3 linked regions of the Homo sapiens genome follow. The protein of the gene in region 3 purifies or fractionates together with the protein of the main gene of each other region. This does not show direct contact. Each region holds a gene or a part of one and is shown on either strand. Other genes may lie near its edges.

Region 1 (4,369 bases), on a different chromosome or scaffold from region 3:
ATTTTTTACATCCTCATGTTTAGCTTATTTGAAGAGGATGCTGATATGTTATTAACACAAGTATTAAGAATCTTATGATTAAATATAATCTAAGCAAATATTCTTGAATCATGGACTGATAAATATATGGAGTAGTAATAATGTTTAATATTTAACCTTAGGGGTCAGGAGTTTGAGACCCCATCTCTACTGAAAATACAAAAATTAGCTAGGCATGGTGGCACGCACCTGTAATCTCAGCTACTTGGGAGGCTGAGGCAGGAGAAGTGCTTGAACCTGGGAGGCGGAGGTTGCAATGAGCCGAGATCATGCCACTGCACTCCAGCCTGGGTGACAGAGCAAGCAGAAAAAAAAAATTAACCTCAGGTAAAAAGGAAATACATCTTTAGGAAATACATCTACAAAGTTTGCTGTTTAATAGACTTTTATTGTTCCAGATTAGGACCCAAATGCACTGTGATAAAATCTAATTGACATTAGACAATTAACCTTGTATGATGATAAAAACTGAGACAGGTTCCAAAAGCAGTGGCGTTCCAAATGCACATGTATCTTATTATATGATCATAGTTTACTTTTACAAAGGTTATTCTATATAAGCCCGGCCATTTGAAAAGTTAACTCTGAAGTCGCCACCAGCTTCACTTTGAGGAACTTCATTTAGTTTGCAAAGGCAATACCATCGCCTGGCCCATATTGTGTGGGACAGCAGTCGGGTAGAGACAGTCAGCTGGACAGTCAACGTAGGGGCCTTCTTCAGTAAGATGCTTCCTGGCAGAGAACAGAGGAAAATCTTTGTTCCAAAATGAAGGTTTTGTTGAAAGAGGAGAGCTACTGTTTATGGAATGAAAAAATAATGAAAAAATAATAATAATGTGGCCTTTCTGAAACTAATGTAGAGAAGCAGAACAGGAATTTTTCTGATGTCAGGAGTGATGAGTAAACAGCATTGTTAATCTGGGATTCTAAGTGGCTTTAATTTAAAATCTTGTCATGGGGATGTTAAGAATGGTTACCTCTAGGTAGAATTCCTGGCGATTTTACTTATATTGTTATACTTTTCTGTATTTTCTGTTCTAAATACATTCTGCTCTTGTAGTCAACCAAGACTTTAAGGGGAAAGAAAAACATAAACAGCTTGAAAGGGAGAATGGGTATCAAAGAGATTTTCATTATAATTTGTTTTAAAGATAGATTTTTATTCATTATGCAGTTGTTTTGTTTTGTTTTTTGCCCCACCTTATACTTCAGCATTGCTTGATTATTTTATTGTGGCTATAGGGAACAAATTACTTCAGGTCCTAGGGGTAAATAAATATTTTTCACTAAAACATTCACAGATAATTCCCTAAAAGAATTCCTTAATTACATATCCTTAATGTTCAAGATCAGTTTTTCTTTTGGTTGTACAAACTTAATAACACCAACTTGCAAATAAAATAGGATAGGGAAAAATCCAGAACAGATTTTTTTAAATCCCTTTAGCATCTGCCCTAACTTAATTGGCATGTTGCATGTACATTTCACTTATGTGTGCTCAGACACTTACATTTCCTGTCATTATACAGTTGAAATAAAATTTGTAATTTATTTGTATTTATTGAACATGAATATAGTAAACTATATCTATTATAGAGTGGGTCTTAGAGAGTCTACACACCTCAAAAGATTATGATTCTATTCAAAATCTAATGGGTTTTTATTGAGGAAAACATGTCAAGTACAATTAAATGGATACAATTCAAAGAAAAGCCAACTGTGTCACCAAAAGGATGCTGTGGCTTGTCTAAGATCACAGAGGCTGTGGTCCTAGAGAGCATGAGCCCTGGGTCTGGGCTTGGTCTAGGTCTTCAGTTATCGTAAGGGGGCCCCTGGGCACTGACTTTGACACCACTCCCTGACTTTGCTACCGAGAGAAAAGTCATCATTATTTGACAACAGCAACTTCACGTCTTTGTAAAACTATGAGCTCGTCTCACAGTAAAATCATCTGTATGGTTCATAAAGAGCAAAATATGAAAAGTGAGTTTTTTTTTCTGGTTTTTTTTTTTTTTTTTTGAGACGGAGTCTCGCTCTTTCGCCCAGGCTGGAGTGCAGTGGCGCCATCTTGGCTCACTGCAAGCTCTGCCTCCCGGGTTCACGCCATTCTCCTGCCTCAGCCTCCCGAGTAGCTGAGACTACAGGCGCCCGCCACCACGCCCGGCTAATTTTTTGTATTTTTAGTGGAGACGGGGTTTCACCATGTTAGCCAGGATGGTCTCAATCTCCTGACCTCGTGATCCGCCCGCCTCGGCCTCCCAAAGTGCTGGGATTACAGGCATGAGCCACCGTGCCCGGCCCAAAAGTGAGCTTTTATGGCACAGAGGTTGCATTGTACAGTGGTTGTATGCATGGATTCAGGAAACAGACTGTCTGGGTTCAAATCCCAGTGCTGTGTGATCTTAGGAATTTGCTTAATCTCTTCTTGCATCAGTTTCCTCATTATAGAATGAGAATAGTAATAGGACCAACCTTCTAAGTTTGTGTGACGACTTAGTGAGTTAATATATTAAGCGTTTAGGACTCTGCCTGACACATAGAAAGTGCTGTTTTATAGGAGTGTTAATGGGTATTAATTTTTCCAGAAAAAAAAATCTACCATTGGCATATCATTTAATAATATTATATATCCAACTAAGTATGTTCATAAATTAGGTGCTAAGCTTTTAGTGGTAATACTGTTTTCTTAACAGTACAACCTAGAAATCATATGCTACTTACAGAGGTTCATTTCTATTATGATCCCAGGAGGTATACACAGCTGGAATTATTGTAGCAACCTAGTGACATGAAAGAAACAGAAAGACAAGGCTTAATAATACTAACAATTGTCTAGTTATTCAATGTCTGCATTATTAATTCCATTTTATTACTGGTCCATATCTTAGAAAAACTCAATACACTTTAGATGCACTAAAAAAAAACATGATTAAAATTCATTGTTAGAAGAATATAGTTCAATTTCCTTACGGCGTTAATGGAAGGTTTACTTTGAAAAAAAGTGATTTGAAAAAGTAGGAAAGAAATTTTCACTATAGTCTTATAAAAGTCAGGCTATCTTAAAAATATAATCAAAATTAATGTTATAACATGATAATATGATAAAAATAAAATTATAAATGATTATGTTTCTTGAAAAGGAGCCTTCAATAACTCAAATTATTATTAAACTGTAAAAACATACAGAAAAAGGTTGATTCACATTCTCTTTTCAGTTTTAGATGACTTGGATAGCAAATTGGCTCAGGAACAGTCTGCAAGCTCAGTGAATACCAGAACACCCCTCAACTATGGATCAAGAACACAGTTCGGTCACTTTTATTCCAGTGGTAACAGACATGGTAATATCACAGAAAGGCACAAAAAACACTATAATGAAACTTCCAATATGTCTATCTATGACATCCTAAGACCAGGAACTCCTAGGGAAGGTTTTAAAACCTTTTCTCCTAGGACAAGCACAATTTATGATATGTATAGGACAAGGGAGCCCAGAGTCTTTAAAGAAGATTATGTGCAAAAGAATACTTTTGGCAGTACTTCGCTGTGTTTTGACAGCAGGCAACGGTCGGCCTTACCAGCCACAGGGCATTTCACAGCAAGAAGCTTACATTTTCCAGCCACAACTCAGAGCAAGAGTGGGTTTATACCACCAAGGCACCAGCAGAGTCCAAAGAGAACTCCTTTATCATCCATCATATGGAACAGATCAGATTCCTCTAGAGACAGGGAGAACCAGGAAGAGTTCCTGAGGGCACCATCACCAATGGAAATTGATCCCGCTGACAAGTATGTGTATCCCAGGGGTTTTCAGGAGAATAAGAGATATGAATCGTACCATTCACAGAATGTTTACCAACGTGTTAGTTTAAATGCTCCCATGGAGAATGCAATGAGTCCCGACACTTTTGAGAACTCAGAGAACATGCCATTCTACCATCAAAGCAACACATTTACCAGATCTTTCTTCAGCAATACCTTTGGACGAAGCGGAGAACAGAGGAGATTTGGACAAGGTCCTTTTTGGGGCCAAGAGAAAGGACATTCTTTCTGGTCTGACTTTCATCGAAGCAGGAAATCATTCAGTTCTTCTGACAGAGACTTTGAAATGATTTCCATGGAAGCAAATAGTGTATCAGCCATTCATGGCCATAATGTTTCTTCTGAACACTGGGAATCATTTTCTTCTGGTTATGGAACAGATGTTTCCAGAGGCCAAGAAGAGCCACATCCTTGGCAGTTTGATTTTCAGAGATCCACACTGGATAGCATGGTGGTATCACATGGTAATGAGACCCAGTTGACTCCTCATTTTGGCACACCAAATGTT
Region 2 (4,369 bases), on a different chromosome or scaffold from region 3:
GAGAGCTGCAGGAGAGGGACCAGGAGGTGAAGTCTCAGCGAGAACAGATCGAGGAGCTGCAGAGGCAGAAAGAGCATCTGACTCAGGATCTCGAGAGGAGAGACCAGGAGCTGATGCTGCAGAAGGAGAGGATTCAGGTTCTCGAGGATCAGAGGACCCGGCAGACCAAGATCCTGGAGGAGGACCTGGAACAGATCAAGCTGTCCTTGAGAGAGCGAGGCCGGGAGCTGACCACTCAGAGGCAGCTGATGCAGGAACGGGCAGAGGAAGGGAAGGGCCCAAGTAAAGCACAGCGCGGGAGCCTAGAGCACATGAAGCTGATCCTGCGTGATAAGGAGAAGGAGGTGGAATGTCAGCAGGAGCATATCCATGAACTCCAGGAGCTCAAAGACCAGCTGGAGCAGCAGCTCCAGGGCCTGCACAGGAAGGTAGGTGAGACCAGCCTCCTCCTGTCCCAGCGAGAGCAGGAAATAGTGGTCCTGCAGCAGCAACTGCAGGAAGCCAGGGAACAAGGGGAGCTGAAGGAGCAGTCACTTCAGAGTCAACTGGATGAGGCCCAGAGAGCCCTAGCCCAGAGGGACCAGGAACTGGAGGCTCTGCAGCAAGAACAGCAGCAGGCCCAGGGACAGGAGGAGAGGGTGAAGGAAAAGGCAGACGCCCTCCAGGGAGCTCTGGAGCAAGCCCATATGACACTGAAGGAGCGTCATGGAGAGCTTCAGGACCACAAGGAACAGGCACGAAGGCTGGAGGAAGAGCTGGCAGTGGAGGGACGGCGGGTCCAGGCCCTGGAGGAGGTGCTGGGAGACCTAAGGGCTGAGTCTCGGGAACAGGAGAAAGCTCTGTTGGCCCTCCAGCAGCAGTGTGCTGAGCAGGCACAGGAGCATGAGGTGGAGACCAGGGCCCTGCAGGACAGCTGGCTGCAGGCCCAGGCAGTGCTCAAGGAACGGGACCAGGAGCTGGAAGCTCTGCGGGCAGAAAGTCAGTCCTCCCGGCATCAGGAGGAGGCTGCCCGGGCCCGGGCTGAGGCTCTGCAGGAGGCCCTTGGCAAGGCTCATGCTGCCCTGCAGGGGAAAGAGCAGCATCTCCTCGAGCAGGCAGAATTGAGCCGCAGTCTGGAGGCCAGCACTGCAACCCTGCAAGCCTCCCTGGATGCCTGCCAGGCACACAGTCGGCAGCTGGAGGAGGCTCTGAGGATACAAGAAGGTGAGATCCAGGACCAGGATCTCCGATACCAGGAGGATGTGCAGCAGCTGCAGCAGGCACTTGCCCAGAGGGATGAAGAGCTGAGACATCAGCAGGAACGGGAGCAGCTGCTGGAGAAGTCTCTGGCCCAGAGGGTCCAAGAGAATATGATCCAAGAGAAGCAGAATCTGGGGCAAGAGAGAGAAGAGGAGGAGATAAGGGGCCTTCATCAGAGTGTAAGGGAGCTACAGCTGACTCTAGCCCAAAAGGAACAGGAGATTCTGGAGCTGAGGGAGACCCAGCAAAGGAACAACCTGGAAGCCTTACCCCACAGCCACAAAACCTCCCCAATGGAGGAACAATCTCTAAAACTTGATTCTTTAGAGCCCAGGCTGCAGCGGGAGCTGGAGCGGCTACAGGCAGCCCTGAGACAGACAGAAGCCAGGGAGATTGAGTGGAGGGAGAAGGCCCAGGACTTGGCACTCTCCCTAGCGCAGACCAAGGCCAGTGTCAGCAGTCTGCAGGAGGTAGCCATGTTCCTACAAGCCTCTGTCCTGGAGCGGGACTCAGAACAGCAAAGGCTGCAGGTAAGTCACTCCATGGGGAGTAAGGGCCAGGGGACACACCCCTGTCTGGCTGAGCTCAGGGACTGCCCACCACCCTGGGCCCTGTGGCACCTCAGGGGTATGAGAAAGCTGAGATCATGAGCACCTCAACATCGGTGGGATTCAGGCTACTGTGCTAGTCGGGAGATACAGAGAGGATAAGAACCCCACAGTCCCTGCCCTCACAGAGTTCACAGTCTAGTGGGTAAACAACGATAATGCAGTGTGGTTGGTGCCTAATGGGGGAAGTTTAGTATGCCCCAGGCATGCTGGAGGGATGCCCACCCTTTCCTGGGAGTGGGTCCTGAAAGGCTTTCTGGTAAAAGTGGTGTTTAAGATTAGACCTGGGCCAGGCACGGTGGCTCACGCCGGTAATCCCAGCACTTTGGGAAGCCGAGGCGGGCAGATCACTTGAGGTCAGGAGTTCGAGACCAGTCTGGCCAACATGGTGAAACCCCGTCTCTACTAAAAATACAAAAATTAGCCAGGTATGCTGGCATGTGCCTGTGATCCCAGCTACTTGGGAGTCTGAGGCAGGAGAATTGCTTGAACTCAGGAGGCGGAGGTTGCAGTGAGCCGAGATCGCACCATTGCACTCGAGCCTGGGCAAAGAAACGAGACTCCATCTCAAAAAAAAAAAAAAAAAAATAGACGTGAAGGGACCAGTAAGGAACTAGCCAAGCACAGGTTGAGGAGGAGCATTCACGGGAAGAGGAAAAGAGGGCGAGAACAAGTGTAGTATCTGTGTAGATGGTTCAGGTTGCATGGGACAGAGGGAGGATTTGGGAAGAGACCGGAAGACAGCAGGGGCCACACCTGTCAGGGCTTACAAGTCATGCTGAGGACCTGGGTGGTGGGAAGCAGATGAAGTTTTTGCAGCAGGGGAGTGATGTGATCAGACATACAGCTCACAAAGATTGCTCAGGCTGCCGTGTGGAGCAACAGCATGTCTGGAGAGACCCACTGGGAGGCTGTACTGGGAAGTCCAGGGGAGAGCTTGTGCCCTAAGATGGAAAGTGTGAATGGAGACATGTGGGTGGGTCTGAGAGGTAGGACTTGATTGGCTAAGAGGTGGGAGGAATAAAGAGAGGGCAGAAAGAAGTCAAAGATGACACTCAGGTTCCTGTTCATGAAGATGAAGAGAAGCAGGTGTGAGAAAGAGGAGTGGAATGAATGATGAGGTCAGTTTGGAAATGGAGGGAGGAGCCTGTTGGCAGGTCAGTAAAATGATCTGAAGCTGAAGGATGGAGTTGAAGCCAGAGACACTTTGGAGTCATCAGCAGTTAGAACAAATGGGTTTCTTGTAGGCAGAATGTTGAGTGAGAGAGGAAGTGGGCTTAGGAGAGGACTTCAGGGTGTATTATTTAACCTCAAGGTCAAGCACCGTGTCTTAGTCACCTTTGTACCCCCGGTACTGAGCACAAGACCTGCAGAGAGCAGGCAAACAGGAAAGCCAAGTTGGCTCAAGAGAGAGAGGCATCATCTCTTTTTCCAAAAGACGCCCAGTCCAATTTTCCAGGGAAATAGACTCTACATCCTGGTCCCTTGACTGGGCCCCAGAGAACCCCAGACACACAGTCCCCCAGAGAGTTCATTCTGGGAACTCACAAAGCTCTGCTCTTGGTGAAGGGCAATATGAGGAGAAGGAGGTCCATCTGTGAACTCCAAAGTTCACAGGGTTTGAAATACAGTAGTGCGGCTTATCAGCTGTGTAACCCCGGGTGAATGCCTTCACTCTGATCTTCAATTTCTCATCAGTAATATAGGCATTGGTGGTATGACATGGCATGATATGTATGAATTGCTTAGGAAGAAAGCACTAAGTGGACCTCCTTTCCTATGTTCAGGCCCATTCTTACAGGCACAGCAAAAGTAAGTTATGTAATTGGGCAGGAGGGCACTTCCCACCCATACTCTTGGGTTACTGAGCAGTATTCACTCAATAACATAACTCTGGTCAGAGTCACTTCACCCACTGCCACCTCCAAACACACAGGGTGAGACTCTTGTCTCAAAAAAACAAACTCATAAATGGCAGGACTGGAATGAGGTCTGAGTCATCTGCCTCTAGAGCGCAGGCTTTCTGTCACCAAGCTCTTCCTCTCTCCCAGGCAACCCACATCCACCTGCGTACACTTGTTTTCTCTTGTTCATCTCTTCTTGACTGTTATCATTTATGAACCACAGGGCACCTAGAAAGTATCTAGCATGAGGCTTCCCCATTTATCCAAAGGGACTTAACCTAAGGACTTGATCCATGTTTCATGGTGCATGTAGTCGTTTTATAAATGAGGAAATTGGGGTTTGGGGAGAGCTTGTGCTTTGACCAGAGTCATATAGCCACTGAGTGGCTATATGGGCCACTGGGTACGCCACAGGGCACCCAGCCCTGTGTGACTCGAGAGTCCATGCTGTTCCCACAGCACATCAGTGCTCTGAGTCATTGCTCAGCCTTCTAGGAGATGTGAAGTGAGCTGGGGGCTCTGATCCTAGCTTCCTTGCTAGCTCACCGCATATCCTTGAGAAGAGCCCCTCTGCTCCTTTGTTTTACCTATCTGTAAAATGAAGGTTCTGTACTAGAA
Region 3 (5,876 bases):
ATCCAATGGAACTCTACACATTAGAAGTTATGGAAAACCAGGGCCGGGTGCGGTGGCTCATGCCTATAATCCCAGCACTTTGGGAGGCCGAGGTGGGTGGATCACAAAGTCAGAAGTTCAAGATCTGCCTGGCCAACATGGTAAAACCCCGTCTCTACTAAAAACTACAAAGATTAGCCGGGCGTGGTGGCACGCACCTGTGGTCCCGGCTACTCGGGAGGCTGAGGCAGAAGAATCGCTTGAACCCGGGAGGTGGAGGTTGCAGTGAGCCACGATCACATCACTGCACTCCAGCCTGGGCGACAGGGCGAGACTCTGTCTCAAAAAAAAAAAAAAGAAGTTATGGAAAATTGGCTGGGCAGGGTGGCTCATGCCTGTAATCCCAGCACTTTGGGAGGCCAAGGCAGGCAGATCATGAGGTCAGGAGTTCAAGACCAGCCTGGCCAACATGGTGAAACCCCGTCTCTACTAAAAATACAAAAAATTAGCTGGGCATGGTGGTGCGCACCTGTAATCCTAGCTACTCGGGAGGCTGAGGCAGGAGAATCGCTTGAACCCAGGAGGCGGAGGTTGCAGTGAGTCAAGATTGCGCCATTGCACTCCAGCCTGGGTGACAGAGCAAAACTCCATCTTGAGAAAAAAAAAAAAAGAAGTTATGGGAAACCATCATATAACAGTACTAGAAGAGACTATTTCTCCCCAGTGCTCTCAGATCTCACCACCAGTTTTTCCTGGCCCTGGTCCTGCTATGACACAAGAAATCTTTTGCTCAAGGATAAGTCCTATAAATCAAAACTCCCACACATGGACATAAAATGAGACAGTGGCCAAATCTATGGGGTTGATAAGTCACTGCCACTCAGACATGCCTGAAATAATTAGAGAAGCATTAATTTCATTGTAGATTCTGGTGAGAGAATTTAGAAAAAGGCAGTGCAGCCCGGCCCTTGCACATGCTAAAGGTAAATGTTTTCTTCCTTGGTAAGTCTGGGTCCAGGCGAACAGGAACCAGAGCTGACCATAACTTTGATGACCAGGAACCGTCCACATCCACAGAACACTGGTTGCCACCACTCGCCAAACAAGTCTCTCTAGTTCCCTCATTTGCTCTATTTTTATCACTTGTCTCTTTTGTCTTTTTCTCATATCTGAGATGTAAGTGACTGTCGGCACTCTTTCTAAGCACTCTCCAAGCTTCCCTGAGGCTTGGAGGCTCATTTTTCCAGCTCGTGCACAGTGAAATAAAAAATATTCAGAGACTCTTCCCTGATAAGGTTTTGTTGTAAGACTGGGAGGAGCAGAGCTGGTGTGCTTTTGGGTGGCTTTATTTGTAATTGGAAAAGATTGGCCTTCATGGATGGTTAATCTATACCCAGGAGAGGCGTTTTCCTACTTTCTAGTTCTATAACTCACAGTCCTAAAAGGAGCAGAAGTTGATGGCATCAGGAGACCTGTGTTAAAATCCTGACTCTAAAAAGTTTATGATTGAGTCAACATACATTTGCAAAATACCACCAAGAAACCAGACTTTGGTGCTCAAAAATGGAAGACATAAACTCTGCTTTCAAGAAGCCTGCGGTCTCAGAAGGGTGTGGCAAATGCAGTATAATGGAGTGAAAGAACGGAGTGGACTTCATCCCAGGCACAGGAGGTGGCTGCGCCTGGCTAGGGGCTCCCAGCTTCCACCATGAGGTGGGATGCCAAGGTGTCTGCCCCTCTGGAGGACCTCGGCATCCAGAAGAGGCAGTTTCCTCCTAGAGGGTCACCCAACTCATGCAGGAGAATTCAGAAAATGATTGTTGAAGGAGGTAGCCCTTGAACTATAGAAGAGGTAGGGGTGAGTGACTTTCCAGGCAGGGAGGACAGCACAGACTCGGGCAGTGTCACCTATGAATTCATGTGCTCAATTACACTGTACATGCGAATCAGCTCTGGATCATTCATCCCTATGAGACCCTGATTCTTTGTCTGCAAAATGAAGACAACAACCCTTGCCTGGATACATAAAGAGTTGTGAGGATTCAATAAAGAATATAAAAGAGCTACACCAATTGGCAAGTCCTATTATTATGAAAGAGAAGTGTGGTACAGGACCTGTCAAGATTCAACCCAAGATAACAGTGCTATGTGGAGAAAGAATCTAGCCCTGGCTCTGCCACTAACCTCCCCACCACCATAGGCCTCAGCTTTCCTCATCTGTCCAATTAGTGGCTTGGAACCAGAAAGGCCAGAAGCCCTTCCTGCGCTGATATTTTATTTGTAAGTCCCCTTTAAATCCAACTGCCAGTAACTAGCACGTGGCTCCCGCCCCCAGACTGCTTCTTTATTCATTCCTAACCTTTACCTTGGCAGATGAAATATAAGATTCATCAACCACATTTGACAGCCCATGGCAGGTTTCCTGTTTTCCATCGTCCCTCTGCAGGTCACAGACACACAGAGCCCAGCCGTGGCAGGCTCAGCCGGGGTCCGGGGCTGCTAACAACGGCTACATTCCTCCCCCAGGGCCAAGGGAAATCCTGAGCGCAGGCCAGGGTTGTTTGGTTTTGAGGTGTGCTGGGATGAAAGGCACCCTGGAAGTGGAAGGTTCGGTCATTCATTAATTAATTACATCTATAATTGAGGGTTTGTTCTTAAGAGCGAGTCCTTTGAAAGTACTTTCCTTCAAACAGTGACTGCCACAAAGGCATCAGATATTCACCACCTTCTCGGCTGCCTCAGCACAGCAAGCTTTATTCTGGGACCTGAGATCCTGTTCTGAGCTGGCTTTCCCTTCTCCAGGCTCGCTCACCCTCCCTTTAGAGGTGGGGCTTATTGGGGGTGGAAAAAGGTGTGTGTATCTCTGTTGTTTAATGTCTGGTTTTTTGTTGCTGTTGTTGTTGTTTTGTTTTGGTTTTGGTTTTTGGTTTTTTTTAAGGAAATCTATACTACATCGAATATGCTTTCTTTTGGGTGGACTTTAACCTAACCCATTCCAGGTAAATGAACAATGGAAAAACTTCACGGCAAGATTAGAAAGATACCTGAGCCCAATACCCGCCTGATGTCGTGGGCCACACCTCCGGGTTACCAGGGGAAGGGAGGAAGCAAACTGTCATATTGATGTGGCTCTAAACAACAACAGTGTGCGAAGGCCCAGGGGCACTTTGGGATTGACCAAGAGGAAACACAAGTTGCACAATGATACAATCTTGTTGGTACAATTGTCAGAGAAGGGAACTCCCACAGCAAAGGCCATAAAACCATCCAGGGCAGTCTGGGGCGGCTCAGTTCTGCGGTGCCAGGGAGTGGAGCAGAGCTCAGCCCCGTCCCAAACACAGATGGGACCATGAACTCCGGACACAGCTTCAGCCAGACCCCCTCGGCCTCCTTCCATGGCGCCGGAGGTGGCTGGGGCCGGCCCAGGAGCTTCCCCAGGGCTCCCACCGTCCATGGCGGTGCGGGGGGAGCCCGCATCTCCCTGTCCTTCACCACGCGGAGCTGCCCACCCCCTGGAGGGTCTTGGGGTTCTGGAAGAAGCAGCCCCCTACTAGGCGGAAATGGGAAGGCCACCATGCAGAATCTCAACGACCGCCTGGCCTCCTACCTGGAGAAGGTTCGCGCCCTGGAGGAGGCCAACATGAAGCTGGAAAGCCGCATCCTGAAATGGCACCAGCAGAGAGATCCTGGCAGTAAGAAAGATTATTCCCAGTATGAGGAAAACATCACACACCTGCAGGAGCAGGTAAGATGCTGGGTGACCCTGGAGATCCAGATGGGGCTGCTTTGCCAGGGGACCCTCGGGAGGAAAAATGAGTCCAGAAGACAATTTCCAGGAAAATGGCATCAGCGCTTGAAGTAATTGTGCACAAAGGTTTTGGGGGATGTTTTCTTATTATATCTTAAATTTGGAGTGGGAAACGTCTGTTTTGTTTAATTAGTCTACTGTCCATGGATAATGTAGAAAAAGAAGGCAGCAAAAATGATAGAAGTGCTACAGACTGTTTCAAAAATGAGACTACTGATTTCTCACAGACCAAAAACATCTTTAAAATGTGAGGCAACCAGCTGCTGTTTAATGTCACTTATGACCCAACGATGTCATAGAAATGATAAGGGCTGGTGTTCATGCTGCATGCTCAGTGCACCAGGCATAAGAGAGTGTTTACTTTCTCATTACCTCAGTTCTGCTCCACCTCAAACTTTTTTGAACAATGTGGTTATCCATCGACAAAAGGCTGTTACACTATTTTGAAGATTATGCCTAAAAGTTGTCACCACACCAGCATATAGGTCATCATGACATCCCTAGATATTTCCGTTTGTGGGTTGCTTGCAGTAAAGTTGCTCACAGTTCTGACAATGGCATATTGCTAGAACCAATAATAATAAAATGAGCATAATTTTTAGAATCTGAGAGTTGAGATGGCTATAAAGACCTTGTTCAAAAAAAACCGAACTCTTTAACCAAACCTCAAAAAAGCTAAGCAAATACCTTCTGGGATGTCTCATAACATTAGCTAGAAGTAGAAGGAATCCAATCATCTCATAGGTTATGTTTTAAAGCTATCTAACTCCCCTCTTATATAAAGCAGTCCCAGAAAATTCCCTGTAAGACCATGATTTAACCTCCCCTAGAAAGGGTATCACAAGTTTCCAATATTTATATATATTATTTCACAATGCTCAGTCATCCTTGCTTGAATGTAGGAAGGACCAGTCAAGATAATATAAATCTGTCCTTGTAATGAACCCTAATTATTGAATAATCAACCTAATAACTGACTGTAATTACCTTAACTATATAGTGCATGGTTGTCTTTATGAAAAAAAAAAAAAAACAAGGTGACTCAACAGTCCTCATCATGTTTTTTTGTTTAATAAAGTTGCTTTGGTTGTAGAAAGGAGGAATTGAAGATTTTTGCAAATGGAGAGCAAAGGGAGACCATGACTCCCAAAAGAAATACAAGGTTAGAACCAGTCAAATAATTTATGAGCTCGCGGAAGAGATTTAAAAAAAAGAAAGGGAGGAAAGAGAGGGAAATGTTTACTGAGCACTTATTATGTACCTAGGCATCCTGCTGGATATTTAATACACATGTCAACACTATCCAAGAGTTTTCTGCAATGATGGAAATGTTCCATATTATTTTATTTGATTCTGCAAGAACCCTGTAAGGAAATGGAAGCTTGGAAAAAAGTGAAATAGCCATCCAAAGCCATCAGCAAGAAGCAGAGGTGGGATTCTAACTCAGGTCTGTTTCCAGTAGCCTCATAAATTTCACTACAGTGTAGTGCTGCCTAGCCCACCTCATATAAAAATGACACTTAGTATGAATAAAGATAATGCATTATACTTGCATCATTAACCACACATCACATACTTCATACACATTGTCTCATTTAATCCTCACAACTGTGTGGAGCAGGTATTTGTATTCTCAACTTACAGATAAGGAGACTGAGACCTAATCATTGTCTAAATCCTTTGGAACAGAATTGAGAAAAGTGAGTAGGTGCAATGGGGGGTGTGGGGAGCAACCTGCCCACCCTTCAGATGACCTGGAATTCTGGGTTCTGAGATTGAATAGGAAACTTCTTTGGCTTTGAATTTCACTCTTTTCTGGATTTTTACCTCTAACATTGTGTTTTCTCTACACTTGAAGAAAGAAACTCTTTAAAGTTGAGGTTGTCTATCTACCCCAACCTCCCTCATTTGAAGATGAGAAAACAGAGGTGCAAGGAGGTCCCACAATTACCTGGGGCTTATCCTTCCTGGACCTTGGTGAAATGCTCTGAGTGGATACAGTTCTCCCGTACCCTCACTTTAGGTATATTAAATATCACTCAAAAGGTTGATAACAAGTTGAGCTTAAAAATTAATTCAATCCTTTTGA

Evidence for each region. Proteins that work in one complex are often made in the same cells at the same time.
Region 1: the proteins of KRT23 (region 3) and EXPH5 purify together in Homo sapiens (affinity purification with mass spectrometry; one large-scale study listed by BioGRID and IntAct). This does not show direct contact.
Region 2: the proteins of KRT23 (region 3) and CEP250 purify together in Homo sapiens (affinity purification with mass spectrometry; one large-scale study listed by BioGRID and IntAct). This does not show direct contact.

Annotation. Positions count from the first base shown.
Region 1 is NC_000011.10:108,513,761-108,518,129, reverse strand, and holds part of EXPH5 (exophilin-5), read left to right. Parts: intron 1-406; exon of another isoform or gene 407-771; intron 772-2,760; exon of another isoform or gene 2,761-2,819; intron 2,820-3,254; coding exon 3,255-4,369. UniProt on the Homo sapiens protein: May act as Rab effector protein and play a role in vesicle trafficking.
Region 2 is NC_000020.11:35,503,237-35,507,605, forward strand, and holds part of CEP250 (centrosome-associated protein CEP250), read left to right. Parts: coding exon 1-1,769; intron 1,770-4,369. UniProt on the Homo sapiens protein: Plays an important role in centrosome cohesion during interphase. Recruits CCDC102B to the proximal ends of centrioles. Maintains centrosome cohesion by forming intercentriolar linkages.
Region 3 is NC_000017.11:40,934,056-40,939,931, reverse strand, and holds the start of KRT23 (keratin, type I cytoskeletal 23), read left to right. Parts: upstream 1-2,285; 5' UTR 2,286-2,586; intron 2,587-2,661; exon of another isoform or gene 2,662-2,978; 5' UTR 2,979-3,328; coding exon 3,329-3,724; intron 3,725-5,876.